2 separate regions of the Homo sapiens genome follow, and region 1 is linked to region 2. Evidence: fine-mapped expression QTL. A gene starts in region 2. The other region holds a variant in brackets. All regions are shown on one strand. Distances are from middle to middle.

Region 1 (10,346 bases), 29 kb after region 2:
CAAGAAAGATGGTTGTGAACAAAACTTATGAAAGCAGGTATTTATATGCCCATACGTAGTATATGGGTAATGAATTAAATGATTTTGATTTTCGTTCACACAAAGATAGTGGAATAAGACTGATGCTTTGGATGTAGAAAAGAAAGATTAGATCATGATCAAAAGAAACCAGTGTAAAAGAAGATGAGGGCAGAAAAGCACTCTGTTACAAAGTTATATACCCGCAAGGAATGTGACTCATAAAACCAAATGGATCCATGAGGAGAGTATTTATATCCATTTTTTGTTATTTTTATTACAAAATCTATGCATGTTAAGTACAGAAAATTTTTAAGAAACTCATATAAACAAGATAATTCCTATACCCATAAATAATGTGTTAGCAATGGTATATGTATGCATACTAAACCATGAGCAAAGGACCCTAGCTGTCTTGTTCACAGCTGATAACTCAGTGGATATTCTTTGGATGAATGAATTTAAGATGTTTTTTCTATGCATATATACATATAAAATGGAGTTATCCCATACACACTATTTTGCACTTGACAGTATATGACAGACATAGTTCCATGTCGAATTATCTCCATGTCAGTATATTTCCATCTACCGTATTTGATTGCTGTGTTTTATGACATGGAGGTACCATAATTTACATGACTGATTCCTTTTCTGTCTGAGCCCACTGGTTGGAGGCATTTCCTCCTTTTTATATTTCATTTATTTGTCCCTCCTTTTCCGTGAGCTCTAATAGTTAATCTCACGCTTTCATGAGCGTTTTGGTTTCCTGAAGAACTTGTTAAAAATTCAGACTCCTGAGCTCCATCCCTGGAAATCTGAATTCATTTGACTAAAGGGGATCATGGGAAACTGTATTTTTTAGAAGATCCTAAGTGATTCATCCACAAGAGGGTGGGAAGACCACACTGTGAGAATCACCATTTGGTCAAGCTACAGAATACTATAGGCATATTTCCACTCCTTTTCATTATTTGCAACCCTCCACCCTCTGGAAGCCCTGACCCGATTTTGAGAGAAATATATAAAAATCTGCTTCCAGACCCCAGAGATGCAAAATAAAGGACTTGATGCTTACGGATTCTTAACCATAGAACAGGCCAACATATACAGTCAGTCAGAAACATGCAGGTCTTATCACATCTGCTGCTTCTGAAAACAAGCAACCATTTGAGACAAATCAGTGACAGAGGGACACCTCCCAGGTTGTGAGAAAATTTTGTCCGCTGATAAAATTCTACCTAATTCCAATTTTACAGAGGCTTTGGATATGTGTGTGTTCGGTTAATTAAACCTTTCCTTCAATTAGCCCATTAAAAAAGTCCAGAAAGATCAGAAAGCATACTGGGAACCTCCTTTATCATTTGTCTCACTGATTTGTCCTCCCACCTTCCTGCCCCTCCACCACTGCCTCTCACCCTGGTCTGTGGCTTTGTGCTGGGAAGGGCTGCCACAGGAAGGGGGATGGAGAAGTGTCACTTACAAAGTGTTTCAGTTGAGTAAGCTCCTTTTCCACAGTCAGACTTGGAAACCCAAGGCTTATTGGAAGCCAAATAATAAATCCTGTGACCAATCAATCACCGCATTAATTGACAAGCATGGGTAGGAACCGTAATAGCAGTGGGAAATGAGGTCTGATCCCTGTAACAAGGAACGCAATGGAGCTGGAATCATGTTCTAGCAGAAGCAGAAATCAGCCAGCTCTGGCTGCCATCATCTCTCCCCAGAATGGCCGCAGCAGCCCTCTGATTGATGTCTTTGCCTCCTATGAGTCCCCTCACCTCTTCTCCAGAGGCTGGTGCAAATCTGAGCACATAAGATGTCTTCTTAAAACCCTTCCATGACTCTCCATGACATCTGGCATAGAATCCAAACACTTTAGCATAGCTATCAAAGTCCCTCAAGATCTAGCCAGTGCTTTTCTCTCTCCAGACTCACCTCCTGTCTCTCCTCCCACAGCCCTCCCCTCATGCATCAACACACACACCTACTATGTGCTCCAGCCATAACCACACTCCGTGCAGATTCTCTGATTCACCACACTCCCTCAACTCAGGGCCTTTGCCACACACTGATTTCTCTGCTTGGAATATTCTCTATCACTCTTGCTGCTTCTCCTCCTGACAAAATTCTGCCTAATTTTTTAGGTCCTATTTTATACACTGTTCCCCCAGGAAGCCTTCTTTCATCCTTATCCCTTGTAGTGGTAGTAGGTTGAATAATGGCTACCCAGAGATATGTCCTAATCCCTGGAACTTGAAAATGTTACCTTACTTGGAGAAAGTGTCTTTGCAGTTGTAACTGAGTTAAGGATCTTGAGATGAGAAGATTACCCTGGATTATTTGGGTGGATCGTAGATGCCATCATAAATGTCCTTATAAAAAAGAGGAAATTGAAGATCATATAGAAACATACAAGGCAGAAGGTGATGTGAAGTCAGAGGCAGAGACTGGAATGATGCAGCCACAAACCCAGAAATGCTGGGGAGCCACCAGAAGCTGGAAGAAACAAGGCACTGATTCTCCCCTAGAGTCCCCAAATGGAGTGTGGTCCTGCCAGATTTCTAGCCTCCAGGACCTTGAGAGAATAAACTTTTGTTGCTTTAAGCCACCAAGTTTGTAGTAATTGGTTACAACAGCCTCAAGAAACTAATATGCCCTCCAACCTGGAAGAGTTCTCTCTTTCCCTCTTTTCCCAGGGTACTTACAGCACTGAACTATTATCACCTATTTACTTGATTTCAGACTCCACGAGATTAGAATTAGGAGCACTGTCTGCTCTGATCCCCACGGTATCCTCAGTGCCCAGCACAGGGCCTTTCACACAGGAGAGGCTCAATAAGTAACTGTAGAATCAATAGATGGATGAATGAATAATGGAATGAATGCATGCATGCACAGGGAAAGCTTTGCTTAGAGCGATAAAACAGGGATACCTAATAACTATTATTTGAAAGGCTGTTATTTAGAGAGGGAGAGGAAATACAAATGTATTGAATGTCTACTGTATCAGCCACTATGCCAGATGACTAATGTCCATTATCTCATTAATACAACATTTTTTTTTTTGAGACAGAGTTTCGCTCTTGTCACCCAGGCTAGAGTGCAATGGCGCAATCTCTTGGCTTACTGCAATCTCTGCCTCCTGGGTTCAAGTGATTCTCCCACCTCAGCCTCCTGAGTAGCTAGGACTACAGGCGCCTGCAACCACACCTGGCTAATTTTGTATTTTTAGCGGAGATGTGGTTTCACCATATTGGCCAAGCTGGTCTCGAACTCCTGACCTCAGGTGATCCACCCACCTCAACCTCCCAAAGTGCTGGGATTACAGGCATGAGCCACCGTGCCCAGCCAATACTCACAACATTCTTAAGGAGTAGTTATTATTGCCCTGGTTTTACAGAGGAAGAAGAAGTAGGCTCAAGAAATTAGGTTATTCACTCATGGTCACATAGGAAGAAACAGACATCTGTGAGGACCCTGGGGTTGTAATGAGACCCACAGGGTGGAAGCCACAGGGGAGGCAGAGTGCAATTTAGAAAGATGCTCTTTGTATTAATAACTGGAGCTATCCAACAATGAAACGAGTTGTAGAAATCTAGCAGAGGATTAGTAACCTACAGCCCATGTACCAAAACAGAAGTGGAAGTTGGCAAAGAGCATGGGCTTTTCTGGGACCCTCTCTCCTGTCTATGGGCTGGCAATCCACCGGCCCTTTCCCTCTCCTGAAGCCTCACTCTAACAAGGACCAATACTCAGCATTAGCCCAAACTTCCTCCCCATCTCCTGACACTAGACCAGGATTCAAACCTTCAGAAAACCACTTTTGAGAGTTCTCTGAGCCCTGCACAACGTTTCCCAAAGTGTGCTTAAGCCTATCAGGTATTCCATGAAAAACGATCTTCCCTGGAAAAGGACTCCCTCCATAAGGACTCCAATACAATGTATGAATAATCCTGTTTTACTTTTTAATAAAATTTCTGAAATTAACTTGTTTTCTCCTCGTTTATCTCTTTCTCTCAAAAGCAGACTGCAAAAGATCAGATCAGTAAGTCAAGAGTGCAGTTGGACTTGTGATCCTCAATCTGATATGACTTCTCTCCTTCCTTTCCACATGCAGAGATACTGTGAGCTTCTCTTAGCATGTTTGTGTAATCACTTTTCTCAATTGTTTGGTATTATTATTGTTTTTCTCCTTCTCTTATCCTCCCTATGAGATTGTATGCTCCTTAGGAGCCCAAGACAATATCTTGTTTTTCATTCCTTGCAGCACTATCTTCATTTCATAGCATGTGGCAGTCAGTCAATTGGACTGCTCAAAGAAGTTTGACTATATTTTATTTTTTAATTTATGTGAATCTGATTATATTCTACTAATGGATTAGAATTTCTTGGTGACAGAGTAATTAGTACTTTCTGAATTCATATTCAATGCGATAACCTCAGTTTGGAAAAATTCAACTTACTACATGCAGAAATCACAACCAAAAATTTAAGGCTTTTCTTTACTATCA[G/A]TTTAAACAGTTCCTTTTTATCTTCAGACACACCAATATATTTCTTGATTGTTGTTAGGTTTTAGCTTTAATTTTTAAATTAACACACAGCAAAATTGACTTTTAAAAATGGGTTTACAGTTCCATGAAATTTAACACATGTATGGATTAGTATAACAATCACTATCAGAATACTGAACAATTCCATCATTCCCGAAACCTCTCTCATACTATTCTTTTTTAGTCACACTTGCTCCCAGCCCTAGCCACTGTCCCCATGTCTTTCCCCATCACTATAGTTTTGTCTTTTGGAGAATGCCAAATAAATGGTATCATATGCTATGCGGCCTTTTCATATGGGCTTCTTTCACTCAGCATAATGCTTCTGAGATTCATCCAAGTTATGCGCATCAGTAGTTTCTTCCTTTTTGCTGATGAGTAGTATTCCATTGGATGGATGTCTCATAGTTTACCCATTCAGCTGTTGAAGGGCATTTAAGTTGCTTCTGGTTTTGGTGATTATGAATAGAGCTTTTACAAATATTTACGTACAAGTTTTGTGTGAACATAAGTTTTCATTTCTCTAGGGTAAATGTGCAGAAGTGGGATTGCTGGGTCTTATGGTAAGTGTATGTCTAGCTTCATAAGAAACCATCAAAGTGGCTATACCATTTTTGCTTTCCCACCAGCAATGTCTAAGAGCTCTGGTTGTTTTGACTCTTCACCAGCACTTGATATCAGTATATTTTATCTTAGCCACCATAATTGGTATGTAGTGATATCTCATTGCTATTTAGGTTTTTACAACATTTACACGTGAGGCAACTCAGTCTAAGTTAGGGAGGGTGTTATCTAACAAAACATATGACCCCACATTTTATTTGATTTTCCAACATCCCTAAGAATATAATGTAGCAGTTGCTTTATAAAATATCCAAGGATAAGCTCATCACTGTATCATTTTCCCAATCTATATTTGAAGTTTAACTGTTGGTGTATCGTAGTAGAGCAACTGAATGCTCCAACTGAACCTAAGCAGAAATTGTGCATGGACATAACAAAATACAATTCGCCCCTACATACAGAAAAGGCAACATGGTACAGAGCATGAAAGAGGTAGGTCACTCTTCTATGCATTGTCTCAGAACTGGGTTCCTCTTCCCAGATCCCTTGCTTCCTATACCCCAGCCACACTTGTCCAAATTCATCCCTACTCCAGAGCTTTGGCACAATTTGTCCCCTCTGTCTGAAATGTTCTTTCCCCGTATCTTAGTAAGACGGGTCCCTTCTGGCCATTCAGATTTCTGCTTAAATGTCATCTTATCAATCACATCAATGATCACGCATCCGAACGGTAGCGCCACAAGTCACTCCCTATTTTCATCATGCCGCTTATCATTGCCTGAAATTATCTTGTTAACTGTGATCTGTCTTTCTCTGCCAACTCAATAGCTCCAGTGCCGGGAACAACACTTCATACATAGTAAACACTCGTAAATGAGAGCTAAATGGGTGGATGACTGAATGGATAAACACATGTGTAAGAAACTTTCTTCTTGCAGACACTGCTGGGGGGATGTTACTCATGGTACTTTAAGCATAAGCCCTGCCCGTAACTTGGTCTTCACATCTTTGAAGCATTGATGGGAAGGGTAAAAACTGGAACCATCGTTTCGAGACTGTAAGCACTTTTCTGGCTTGTGAGGCAGAGACTCAAACAAACCTTTGGTACAGACCAATCTGTCGTTCTCGGAAAATCACTGGAGCAGGCCTTTTATTCGTAGAGCAGAGACCCTAATCATAAATACAGATGCCTGAGACAATGTCACAGCAGGAAGCGAACTGCTCTTCTGAGAATGTAAAAGGTTGTCTGTAGGGTGGGCAGACTACGCTTCCTCTGAAGAAACACTTCTTTTCTAAGAATGAACTTGGATGGTGCTGTGCCTGCCCACTTGCTCTGGTTCTCATGGGGCACTGTTTTCTGCACTCATGGGCAGATCTGCTGCTGAGGCCTTGAAAATATAGGACGTACAGATTTTATTTCACTTCATGTAAAAGCGGACTGACCCGGGCTGAGTGGCGCACAATCAGGACTCTGCTACGATACCCCTATCTGTGTTAGTATTGAAGCCGGAGCAACGAACACTTTGAGAAAGGTTTAAATAAATAAATGCATACAGCTGCTCTCACTGTCTTGGCTCTGACATGTTTTCAGAGTGCTCCTTACCAACTGCTTTTCTTCATAATAAAATGACAGTACTTACAACCAACAGCAGCATCCTAAATTATGGTAATAAACGCTTCCTCTTACAAAATAATTTGGTTTGGCTCTTCGGTCACGTGATAAATATTTGTTGAGTACCTACTACATGTCACACACCTTGTAGGCACTGAGAAAACAGTGGTGAACAAAACAGACATTATTCCTACACTCATGTATCTCATAATAGTGGGGAAACAAATATCAAATACAACAATCCAATTACAAACCATGAAGAGTGCGCAAAAGCCATGGAAACATTTAATAGAGAGGCATCGCCCCATCTAAGGCATGAAGGAGGCCATCCTGAAGAAGTCGTTGTTCTTGAGCTAAAATCTCAACAACAAATGGAACTAAACTAGGCAAAGAGGAGGGGAAGAACATTTCAGGCACAGGGAGTAGTATGTATGGAAGTCCTGAAGGAGAAGAGAACGTGACATCCTCAAGGACTGGAGGCCAGCCAGGCTACGGAGGGAGACTGAGGTCCAGGATGAGGATGGAAATGTTCAGGGGTCAAATCACACAGGCCCGTGGGTCATGTTAAGGATCTCTGCCCTTATTCTGAGAGCCATGAGAAATTTTGAAGGGATTTGGGAAGATCACTCTGGTTCAGGGCAGAGCTCCTACTTGAGAAGGCAAGAGGTAATCCAGAAGAAGTATTTAGGAGGTGTACCAATTAGCAAGTTATGGTCCCTCAGCTCACATAGACACTACTATGATTTGTGATGCTGAGCCTGGGAGTCTGCAAACTACATTTCTGCTTTTTTTTTTTCCTTCAACTTTTAAGTTCTGGGGTACAAGTGCAAGAGGTACAGGTTTGTTACATTGGTAAATGTGTGCCATGGTGGTTTGCTGCACAGGTTAACCCATCACCTAGGTATTAAGACCAACATTCATTAGCTATTCTTCTTGATGCTCTCCCTCCTGCCTCCACCACACAACAGGCCCCAGTGTGTATTGTTCCCATGCCCCCTGTGTCCATGTGTTCTCCTTATTCAGCTCCCAGTTATAAGTGAGAACATACGGTGTTTAGTTTTCTGTTTCTGTGTTATTTGCTGAGGATAACGGGTTCCAGCTCCATCGATGTCCCTGCAAAGGACATGATCTCATTCCTTTTTATGGCAGCATAGTATTCTGGATCTGTGTTAGACTCTGTCAGTAGAAGGTGTTAGAGGGAGAACTGCAAGGCTGAAGAAGGAAGCAGGGACTTGCTCCATGTTTGTGTGGATGTCACCCCAGGCTCACTTCTTCACCCCAGCAGCAGCAGCAGGTGTGTCCATTAGCAGCAGCTGAATCCACTTTGCAATTTTTTCAAGACTTGCAGAACCAGCTTCACTGCCCCTTATCCTACTCCCCAGAGACATCAACACTAGCCAACTGGAGACCCTCCTCGGAGGTCTGGGTCCCAGGTTATAAGACTCCTGCAAATTTCTAAGTTTTAGTAATTCTAACCTTTTCCTCTTGTTCCTCCAACCCTAGGAATAGTAGCTGCAGCTGCTTCCTCTGAGATACATTAGCATTCTCCTTTTGTTTCTCAATTACCTAGTTAACTGCATTATGCCTGGTTAACAGCTTTTTTTTTTTTTTTTTTTTTGACGGAGTCTTGCTCTGTCGCCAGGCTGGAGTGCAGTGGCACGATCTCGGCTCACTGCAACCTCTGCCTCCTGGGTTCAAGCGATTCTCGTGTCTCAGCCTCCCAAGTAGCTGAGATTACAGGTGCACACCACCACATCCAGCTAATTTTTGTATTTTTAGTAGAGAGGGGATTTCACCAGGTTGGCCAGGATGGTCTCGATTTCCTAACCTCGTGAGCCGCCTGCCTCGGCCTCCCAAAGTGCTGGGATTACAGGCATGAGCCACCACTCCCAGCCAACAACTCTTTATGTAAAATTCTCTCTGTTTAAATAGTTGATGTGGTTTCTGTCTTCTGCCTGGACCCTAGCAGATACAGGTCGCTACTGCAGCTCTGAAACAAACGGGGATAAAGGTGGCAGGTAAAATGGGAAAATATCATTTTTTATCTGAAGTTTCCATCCCAACTTGATTACTCCATAATTGATTTGTTCTTTAAGATTATGAGGAAAGGGACTTTCTTTCAAGCTATTGGTAAAAAACTGGGTCCATAATAGATATCTAATAAATATTTATTGAATAAATTAGAATAGGCTTTATAAAAGTTTAAAGGGTCTCAACAGACATCTTTACAATTTCTAATTTATTCTACCATCTTGAAATGTATACCCATATATGTTTAGAAATAGGTATATCTAGAGATCAAAGTCATAAGATATAACAGCCCATGCTAAATGTATTTTAGCACAGTAAAATACTCCCATGCTATTTTAGCACAATAAAATACTATATACAGTATATGTACCCTGTACATATAAAATACAGTAAAATACTCCCATGCTATTTTAGCACAATAAAATACTATACACAGTATATGTACCCTGTACATATAAAATACAGTAAAATACTCCCATGCTATTTTATTGTGCTAAAATAGCATGGGGGTAACATCGAATAATTTTAATGCAGAATTTTATAAAACACCCTTTAATCCTACTGGTTGATATGAGGCAAAAGTTATTCTGCCCAGCTTGATAAAAGATTCATTTTAATATACTATTTTCTAAGCAAAAATGAAACAGCTATTGTCTGATTTTAGGACACAACTTTAAATGTTTTAGAAGAATAAAAGTTATGAGCTTTCATTTATCTGGGTTATGAAAAGGCAGACTGATATCCTCAATGCTATTAATAACATATTTAAACTTCTCAATACATCTACAAAAATGTTAACTATTTTTAAAGAAGGTAACTTTTATTAAATTTTTAGTTTAATTTAAACTTGCAATAATGTCTTTCAATGTTCATTTCACTAATCAAGGCTCTCAATTCACAGAACCACTACTCCATGTTCAGTTCACCCATTGTTTTCCCTTGAAGTATATAAATTTTCTATTAGAAAATTAGCCTATTAGATCCTGGCTCCTCTTTCCACATTATGGTATCTAAAGCCACATCATTTTCTCTTATCAGTTGCCAAGTCCTATCAATTTTACCTTCTCAATTCTTTCACATCCGTACTCTCCTATCAATTTCCTCTTCCACCACCCTTTTTAGTTCTTTGTTTCCCCTTACTTGGACTACTGTAGTAACCTCCTAAATAGAGTTGCCGGTTTTAGCAAATAAAAATACAAGAAATTCAATTAAATATGAATTTATTCAGATAAACTACAAATACTTTTCTAGTATAAGTATGTTCCAAATATTTTCCAAATATTGCATGGAACATATTTGTACTAAAAAAAATTCTTGTTTATCTGAAATTCAATTTAACTTGGCTTCCCATATTTTATCTTGCAATCCTAACTCCTAACTCATGTCTTTATCCTCTCCTTGTTTCAATCCACCTTTCATATGTTTCTACATATATCTAAAATACAAACTTACGATCATACCACACCATCACTACCACCCTGTCCATGTTTTTAATTTTTCAGGCAAAGGGAAATGATTGAAGATTTTTAAATATAGGCACTTTACCTTAGTATTTAAGGCTATCATAA
Region 2 (10,324 bases):
TGATGGTTAGCACTCCAGAGCGAGAGCCCCAACTTCCCCAAATCATTTTATTTTACAGTCAGAATGCTATTAAGGTTGCCACCCACAATAAGCAAGGCTACCATGTGGTACAGAACTCTTAAAGAGAATGTCCACAGTCCTAAAAGTAAACCTCCTGAAATTAAGGAACAAAACTGTTTTTGTGCATAGAAGACTGCAATGCAACAGGTGTCAACTCAGTGAAATGGCTTTGCTCACCAATTACATAAATCTGGGTTCCGTTGCCTATGCCCAGGTAGTATGGCGGTGGGTACATGAGCTCCACCTTGCAGATGTAGAGTCCCGTGTCCATGGCCCTCAGTCCTTGGATAGTGAGGTTCACTTGATTTCCACTGGAGGTGCCCGTGCAGATGGAATCATCTAGGAAGGTCAACTCATTCCCCATCATGTAGGTTGCCGCACAGACTTCAGTCACCTGGCTGTCAGCCTGCCGAAGCACTGTCACCCGGACCTCAGTGGCTTTGCCTGGAGATGCATACTCACACACAAAGCTGGCGATGCCTCGGCTGCTGGCCAGTACCACAGCAGGCTGGGCCACGTGCATTGCTAGCATGGAAAAGCCAAAGGGAACTCAGTGAACTCATGCTCCTTCATGGCCAAGCCCAGGCAAGCCCTTCTGCCTTCTAGCTTCATCCCCACGGCCTTTTCTCCCCCCTTCAACGAATCTATCACTTACCCCTTCCCCTCTCCACACCCCCAGCCTCCCCTCCATCTCTCAACTGTTTTCCAGCTACTCTCCATAAAGATATTTTCTTACTGAGAAATAGATTCTTCAAGATGGTTGTGGCAGGAAGAACACTGATATGACAAACAGAAGACCTGGCTCTACCATGAAATATGTGATTTGGGGCAAGTCACACTTCCCCCATGTCCTTCATTTTTTTCACATATAGTAAGAGATAATTAGATGAGATGATATGTTCTCTGGTATTCTAAGGTTATGATAGAATGATAGGAGCTATATAGCTCCGGAACTATAATGAGTGGTAGGGGAAATTCTGAAGGTTGAGGTACAGAATCTTGCTTTATCTCTCAAAGTATATGTCAAAAACTTCTGCCTACTTAGTGAGCTGGCCCTGAACCTCTGTCACCCAGGAGTAGCTGTGTCTTGATGCACTGTACCAGCCTCCGCCTTCCCTGGCATTGTTGTAGAGTGGAAGATGTTGTTAGATGAAGGAAGCCACAGAGCCGAGGGCACCAGGTCGCTTCCTCTCTAGGTTGAGGCAACCCTGCTGTTAACTCCTGTGGGCTTCCCCTGACACCACCGCTGCCTCTCTGCCCTTTATTTCTCCTTCCCTTGAACACTCCCATGCTCCTTTGTTCTCTTTTCCCACAGGATAAAGGAGACCAGCTCTCCATACAGAGAGGCTTGCATCAACTCAAAAATAGTGGCTGCATGCCAAATTACCTTCCTGTAACTAACCAGGCCCCTCTCCAGTCAGTCTGACAAGTGAAACTCAAAACTTGTGTTGCATGATGTCACTCATCTGCTCAATCCCTTTGACACTTTACTAACACTGATCGCAAAAACAAATACAATAAATAACATTCAATGAGTCCCCCATGATCCAATTCCAATCTATCACTCTGGTCTGAATTTCTAGGACACACTTTCCTGCTTATAAATCACCCTATATTAGAGACACTAGTCCCTTCCACCAAGCCACTTGCACGGGACATCTGTCCTCAGAAGAGAAAACAGTTTGGCAGCAGCCATTGTCATGTCTATTCCAGCAGCTCTAGCTAGCTAGACTACAGCTTCCTTCCCTAACCCTCACCTCTGCCTATCAGAGATGCCCTCTGAGCATCCTTAGCACTGTGATAACTCCATTGCAGTAGTTCATTACTTTCTGCTCTGTATTAAAGTTATTTGTGAGCTAATCATATCTCCTCACTCTTTTACTTGTGGTTCATGAACTCCTGTGAGCAGTGATTATAGCCCACCCAAGTGAGCACTCAATAATCTTTATTGTATTGACTCTAAGCTTAAGAAATCCTAAATGTCCTGCCCTCTCCCCAAGCAAGCTCACACTCATCACCACTAAATGCGGTCACACTCAACTTTCCAGTATTGGGAGGGTCCTGTTACTGGTTGAGATAAATTTACTTTAGGAAATTTAAATACTTCTAAGAGTGTTTATTTAATCTTTACATATTTAAAACATGTAAAAATAAGAAAACATATATGAATATTTCTTCTCCAGTAAAAATTAAATCATCAAATATCTTTTGAGTACCTACTTCATACAAACTACATGGTTTCTTAACCAAGAAGGTCTAGAGAGAGATAAGGTTGAGATTCAATGGATATACTCATCATTTTAAGCCGTGTAACAAACCTGGTGTCAGTCTCTGAAGAGCTGAAAACTGAGGATCTGCATCTGAAACCCACACGTAGGTCAGGCAACAATTAAGTATTGTATGCCAAACAGACTGGTGGCTTTCTTTCTTTCCTTTTCCTTGTCTTTTTTTTTTGGCAATTTCAAACTTTTATTTTTAAATAATTGGCTAATTAGCTAGTAGAATTGATTAAGAGAACCTTAAAACCTTGAATTAAGTAAAGAAGGCATTCTTCCCACAATTTCCCTACATTTTAAACAAGCTGGCTAATTCATTTATAAAGTATATGAATCCGAGGACCTTAAAACCTTGAATTGTATAGCAAAAAAACTCTTCCCAGGATTTGCTTAAGTCAATTTTTTTTAAAGGAACTTGTGAGCTCATCCTGAAACCCAGCTCAAATGTATTCAGGACTATGGCTATCCTTTCCCTCTTAAATCACTTCCAGTCTCATAGAAGGGTCTGAAATTGCCTGTGTCTCTCTACTAAACCAACTCACATGCATTCATGAAGCCCCTACTAAATACCTGGCGCTCTGTTCTGAGCTATCTCTTTGCCTTATTTGCTGCCGCCCAACTGCTCCCTGCTGGCCCTGGAATACAGAGCCAGCCAAGCCAGATTGGAGTTTTACCTTTAACTTCTGGCTTTGCTATAAATCACTGCCTTTGACTGCTGAAACAAATGAAACCCAGGTAGGAGAAACACCTCCTCCATCTTCATGCTCCAAAAGTCTCACTCACCTTTGCAGAAGACAGGGATGAAGAGAAGAAAAAACAGGAGAGTGCAGGGCCAGGTCCTGGTAGCCAGGTTCAGCTGAGCCTTGTGCCGCTGAAATCCAAGGCAAGCCATGGCTTTATGGGAGCGGTGTTCAGGTCTTCAGGAAGTAGAGCAAAACCTTTCAGGATCCTGAAGCTTTGAAATGTGTTTGAACCCACACAGAATCAAGGACTTTATATAGATAGCTTTGATCCCAGATATGTATTACACATGTGCACACACAGAAGGCACTTGAATAGAAAGCCTTTTTGTTTTGGTTTTACGAGAAAGGAAGCCGTGGGTTTAGCTGTTACGTCGAAAAGACAACCTCAAGCACTCAACTGAACAAAACAAGCCAATCCATGGATGGAAAATGTATTCAATTTGAAACTGAAGCTTCATGTTCACTTTGAGGATCTGGATAACTAAGTGGAGACTTGGAGAATTTCCTGGAGTACAAGGGTCCTCCTAAATCCCAATTTTATTCAATCTTCTGGGCATCCTTAACCATCCAGTCCAATTCATTTCATTGACAACTCCAAAACTACTAGGCTGCTAACTTTCTGAGCCCTTGGGCTAATGGCAGGATTTGTCTAGGCATCATTAATAAAAACTGTATTCTATCTGTGAAGCACCATCCTTCTAATGGTCCCTTGACAGCTTTACAAATAAGTTTATTTCTCCTAAATCCATTTAGCATTTGGTTAAGAGAAAAAAACTAAAATCACAAGAAATAAACTGAAAATAGGCGGAAAAGAAGCTGCCTCTGGTTTTGCAGAAGGAAAGAATTCAGGTGTTCTTAAAAGCCTTAACTCAACAGAGACAAAACAGAGTTGAAGAAGGTCCAAAGAAAAGCCAACCCAAATGATTCAAGAGATTAGAGCCGTCCATAAAAGGATAGACTTTTTTTTCTAATACAAATTTTTCAAGCAGAAAATTCAAAAGTGAAGATTAAATATAACCAGAGTCCTTAAATTTGTGACAGCTGTAGACAGGACCAATGATCTAACAAAAAGAATTTGAAACATTGAGGACCTTCCTTAAATCTGGAGAGTTTTCATACATTTTAATAAAGAAAGAAACATTCATGGGGAACCTGTAATATGCCCGGAATTCTGTGCACTTAGGATTGAATGATGACAAAACAAAAACATAGTTGATACCTTAAGGGGCTTCTAGAAGGCTGACATGCAAACAGACAGTTGTAACAGGGAATATGACATTTGCCTACTCCAGTCCGTCCATGGTTTCCCATTGTCCACACCTCAGCACAGCAGAGGAGACTCTGCAGAATACTCACCAAATGCCTCCCTCTTTGGCCTGTACCCCAGCATTCCCTCCCATTCCCCCTTCCTGCATTTGTCTTTCCTTCCACGTGCCTCTTTCAGGCCTCATCACCTTTACCCATGCTGTTCCTACTGCCTTTTTTCTCCTATTATCTTATTTTATACTCCTTCTCATCCTCCAGGACTTAGCTCAGCTGTCATCTCCTCCAGGAAGCCTCTTCTTTTTTTTTTTAAAATTTTATTATTATTATACTTTAAGTTTTAGGGTACATGTGCACAACATGCAGATTTGTTACATATGTATACATGTGCCATGTTGGTGTGATGCACAGAAGCCTTTTCTGACCTGCCTGTTTTCTATACACTGCTACACATTATAGAAACCTTCAAGCCCCAGCTCAAGCGCCAACAAGCAATAACAACCTAATGGGCACTTCCTAATGCCAGACTGGGCAACAGAGGTTTTTTAAAAAGTGAAAAACAAATGTTCCTGCCCTCAAGAGGAACACACAGCAGTGGCAGGGACAGACAGCTAAACCCATGATCATGATAGAGTGAGATCAATGCTGGAATTGAAGTATTATGTAGAGGAGCAGAAGCCAGTGGTTCAGCCTGTGGAAGTCAGAAAGGGCTTCTCAGAAGACGAAAAGCCTGAACTTATTATTGAGAACAGAGAAAAGGGTGGATATTCAGACAAGAAGAATAACATGGGCTAAAGTTGGAAACGGCATGAAGAGTTCATTATGGTCACAGGACAAAGCTTGTCTGGGGATGAGCAGAAGGTGCAAGCGGATGCTCTTAGCAGCAAGGGCCAATGAAACATAAGGAGCAAACTGGTATGACTGAGTTCACATTTGGGGGAAATTTTAGGGATGGGGAGGATGGGTTCAGGGAGAAATGTAACCAGGAAGACTGGGAAGAAGACTATTGGAATACGCCAGGCACCAGGATTTGGAAAGCTTTCTGAAGGGGGCAAAATAGTAAATATGTTATGATTTGCAAACGGTGGGGTCTCTGTTGCCACTACTCAACTCTGTCATTTTAGAATGAAAGAAGCCATATATTATATGTAAACAAATGGGTGTGTGTGCATTCCAATAAAACTTCATTTACGAAAATAGGTGAAGTCTGGATTTGGCCTGTGGGCCATGGTTTGCCAACCCCTGGTCTAAACTAAGGTAATGACAGCTGTGAAGACGAGGTCCCTATGGGACTAGTCCACAATCAGTGAGTGGAAGGAGAAGTTTAGAATGAATGACACCAGAATTATGGTTTGAGAAGTACTGTGGTGCTGCAGAAATTATTCAAATGTCAAGTTTTCTTTCTTTTCTTTTTTATTTTTTTGAGACAGAGTTTCACTCTTGTTTCCCAGGTTGGAGTGCAGTGGCGCGATCTCGGCTCACTGCAACCTCTGCCTCCTGGGTTCAAGTGATTCTCCTGCCTCAGCCTCCCAAGTAGCTGGGATTGCAGGCACCCACCACCACGCCCAGCTAATTTTTTGTATTATTTTAGTAGAGATGGGGTTTCGCCATGTTGACCAGGCTAGTCTCAAATTCCTGACCTCAGGTGATCTACCCGCCTCGGCCTCCCAAAGCGCTGGGATTACAGGCGTGAGCCACCGCGCCCAGCAAGTTTTGTTTCTTTCAAGTCCATAACAACCCTACAAGACAAGAGTTACCATTTTTCCCATTTTATAAAGAAGGAAATCAAGGCATTGAAAGTTAAGGTGACTTACCCAATCACCCGTAGGAAGTGGCAGAGCCAGGATTTGAAGCCAGTGATACCTTTATCACTATGCTAAAGCAAAGATTTTGAAGCCCAAGATAACTGGATTTGTATCCTAGCATGGGGACTTGCTTACTGTTGACCTGGGGCTCAAAGCCCAATGTCCTCCAGATAATGGCATCTAATTCTCAAGATTATTGAAAAGATTAAATGAGATAATGCATGTAACATGTATAAAAGGCCTATTGTAACAGATAGCCACTCAATAAATAGGCCTTTCTTATTATAGGGTCAATGAGAAGACAGAGGTGCAATTTACTGGAATAAATAACAGGAAGAGCAGGTGAGAAAGTGAAATGACAGCTTTCATCTGAGTATGTTGAGTTTATGGCATCCATGGAAAATAGTTGCCAATAGGATTCTGGAGCACAGGAAGAGACATTAGTTTAGGCAACTATGAAGCCACTGATGAAAATGTCACAGGCCAAGCCACAAAACGAGCATTCTTTAAACATTTGTTAAATAGGTAGGTAAATGAATGAAGACAGTTTAACATAAGAAGAGATGAGGGTTGTAATTAGAACTTTCAAAGACGTCTTACCAGATTCCTTAATTATGCTCTTATGAAACTAATTCTGTCATAGCAAGAAAATTCAAATGGTTGTAAAAAAAATGCTGGGTAAAAGAATCTTGGTGAGAAAAGATATATTCACATATACCACCCCACAGATTACTTGATAATTACAATAGGGAAAAGATAATTGATAAATCTAGCAGATACTGCTTTAACCAAGTGATCCCAACTGAAGATTACTGTGATGGAGTGTTCTGACATAGGGTACCTCCAGATACAATACACTGAGAAGGACACAACAACTTTGTGTAGTTATTGCCAAAATTGTTTTAACTGAATCTAAGCATGAAGAAATAATCAGACAAATCCATATTCTGCAAAATAACTGGCCTAGATTCTTCAAAAATGTTAACATCACAAAAGATTAAAAAGGGAAAAGCCTGGAAAACCATTCTAGATTAAAGGAGAAAATAGAGACATGATGACAGAATTTAATGTGTTATTATTGATTGAAAAAAATAATACAAAGCAGATTACTGAGAAACTGGGGGAAATTTGAGTATAGCCTATATTTCATAATAGCATTGCCTTAATGTTTAATTTCCTGAATGTGATCATCGTACTGGGGTTATGTAGAGAACCATCCTTGTTTATAGATAATACTTAGGTATTCGAGGTTTAAGTGTCAGAATGTCAGCAAGTACTCTCAGAAGGTTCAGCAAAAATATGTGTCTGTGTTAGCAGAGAAAGATAAAAAGAATTAAACAGCAGTGATGGAATTTTAACAATTGGTGAATCTAGGTGAAGAATATGTGTGTATTCATGGTACTATTCTTACAAATTCTTTGTAAATTTGAGGTTTTTCAAAAAAATTCGAAGTAAAAATTATAAGGCCAACTATTTATATTATTGATAATATGGTAGGCAATAAACGAGGGATGAGCAAACTGAAATTTAGAGAGGAAAAGTGACTTGCCGAAGGTGATTCTCCATCCCCTTTCCTCAGATCCAAGCTCCACCTGGGACAGACCCCTGTAGAAAATGTCTCATTAGTTCCCTGTCAGGGTGGCTTCTGAGGGCTTAGCATTGGAAGTTCCCAGCACATCAGAAAGCACAAGGTGGAAGTCCAGGTCTTTCTTCCCTGCCCTCTCCCAGGTTCAGGGCCATGTGTCTGGTAGTAACAGTACCTCTCCACAAGTACAGCTCTTGTTTGGTGGCCCTTGTTCTATGATGCCCATTCTTACTCTTACCTCCCCTAGGGTAAGAGTAAGAATCTTACCCTAGATTCTTAAAGAATCTTAAAGAATCTTAAAAAAAGAGTAAGAATCTTTCCATCCTAGGGGTGCTATCAGCTTCCACTGTTGCTAGTGTCTGGGTGCATTACGAACCTCCACCCCTAACCCTTCTTAATATTTCTCAAAGTAGTTCTTTCATTGAATCTTTTATTTGAACCCCCTGTTGCCTGTTGAGACCCTCATTGATCTAGTGCTACATTTGGTATGTGGCAAAAACTAGATTGAAATCTTCGTCTTCTCATTCTCATTCAGTACTGATTTTTCCCGTTATCTTATGTACAGCAATAACATGTTGTATCATATAGGTTTGTATTTATTATAGTCAATCATGTGTAATTCTGTCTGTCTTCCTCCAAATTCTATTTCCACAGCACTTACAACCTCAACACACACAAAGCACCTAGTCAAGGCCTCCTTTGTACCTAGTAGATAATAGAGAATTTCTGCATTTCAGTTTAGATCTCAAGCATTTTTATTTCTCTCGCATCTCATTTCCAGCTCTGGGGAAAGTGCTAATCACTAAGGACACAATCATAGGCCTGATAGGTACTAATGAGCCCAGCAGAGTGATTAAAAGCATGGCTGGAGTCAGACAGACATGAGTTCAAGTCCTGGCTCTGCAGCTTCTGGATATGTGATCTTGGATGACATTTTTTAACTTCTCTGATCCTCAGCTTCCTCATCTGTAAAATATGGGTAATTTACAGGAATTATCTTGTATCATTATTGCGATGATTCAATGAGCCTATACCAATAAGTTATTGAACACTGTGCCTATCATATACTATGTTCTCAGGAAAAATTAGTTTACATATTAAACACAGAGAACGCTATGGATTTTAAATTTCAGCTGTTATATAAACCCTCTTTCATTATCATTTCTACTGAATAGATGGTATTTTAGATTAAAATCAGATACTAATTATTCTAATACTCACATATTGAATTTCTGCCCTGTCAGTATTTCCATGAGTGTCTGGAACCAAACGGCTTATTATTTTTTACCTGATTGAGTCTAAAAACTCACAACTCTACACATAATCTAAGAATTATGTATTATAAGCTCTCAATTATTCAGTGGCTGAATATTCAAATGTCTAAGGGTACCACATCCTTGGATATTTTCATTTCAGGTTAGGAAGGGGAAAGTCAATTTGCTAATTATTTTTACCACTCCAATTATAAAAGAAAAAAAGGTGGGGGGTTGGTGGTAAAGGAAATGAAAATAATCGGCTAAAATTAGGACTTGGGGATTCACTGTGATTTCATTTATACTCACTATCTTCTTATATCCTAATAGCTTGAGTAAACCCCAGATTGGTTTTGTAGTACTCTTAGTGGTTACTGGGTTTGAAAGATCTCTCAAGATTTGCATAATTCATAGTGGTGCCTATGGTGAAGTATCTTCAGAATTCCAAAAGAGGTAGAGTTTAAAGAGTAACTGGGTTGTTTACTTAATTGTAAAATTCCTCAGCTTATATAGCTCATTCTGAACTGAATTCAGCTTTTCAGATTTTTGAACTTTTTCCCTAAACCTCCTCCAATTATCCTTTACCCAACTAGTATACCAAAACAATTTTAAAAAAATCAACCTTTTATTGAAAGAGTTGCACCTGGCATTGACTGTGGTACCTACTGCAAAACATCCTTTGCTTGATGGTTTCCGATGTAATGGGAAGAATGAAAAGTCTAATATTTGCATAGTGTGCAGTTTCAGGACATCCCATTACGTTGAGCCTATAATCATGCCTAATTAAGGTTATATACTCTGTGTGTTTGTGCTAATTAGCTCATCACACAGAGCTCCTTTCAAAATCGACTTCAAAGGAAAAAGAAAATCATCTACCAAAGTAAGTGACTGCTGAAGAAGAATCTATCAATCATCTCACTTCGAAAGAGAATTAAAGAGAAAGGAAATGATATGCAAAGTGACTGGAAAGAAATTTTAGCTTCATTACCATTAAAGGGTGAAAATATGGGCTGGGCAAGAACCCAGTTAAATAAATGTGGTAGATTAATTTTCAGTCCCTAGGAAACTATAAGCCAATCATAAAATCAGGTAAAAAATGGATGCTTCTGAGCTGTGGACTTTGTCAGTCCTTTAGTGGGGAAACAGAGTAGGTTCCTCCTGGCTTTTCAGTTTACATTGTGAACAGGGTTGTCAGGGAAGCAAAGTTGTATTTGCTGATTTGGATGACAATGAAATGCAGAGCCTGCTTCAGTTGAAGGGTAATCTTTGCCTGTCACAGATTTAATTATATAGAGATGAAAACAAATATTTTTGAATGAATAAATAATAAGTCGGCTGG

Evidence for each region. PIP is the estimated chance that this variant, and not a neighbour inherited with it, causes the effect.
Region 1: its variant is the best candidate, but not a certain one, in a credible set for the expression of CTLA4 in whole blood (INTERVAL, PIP 0.84).

The regions. Positions count from the first base shown.
Region 1 is chr2:203,832,124-203,842,469 of GRCh38, reverse strand. No RefSeq gene overlaps it. Among named protein-coding and RNA genes, the nearest start is that of CTLA4, 30 kb to the left of the region's middle. The variant G/A (reference allele first, on the strand shown) is at 4,533.
Region 2 is chr2:203,860,847-203,871,170 of GRCh38, reverse strand. CTLA4 (cytotoxic T-lymphocyte associated protein 4) reads right to left here and starts at 3,400. Exons shown (of 4, transcript NM_005214.5): 1 at 3,120-3,400; 2 at 238-585. The coding sequence starts at 3,228.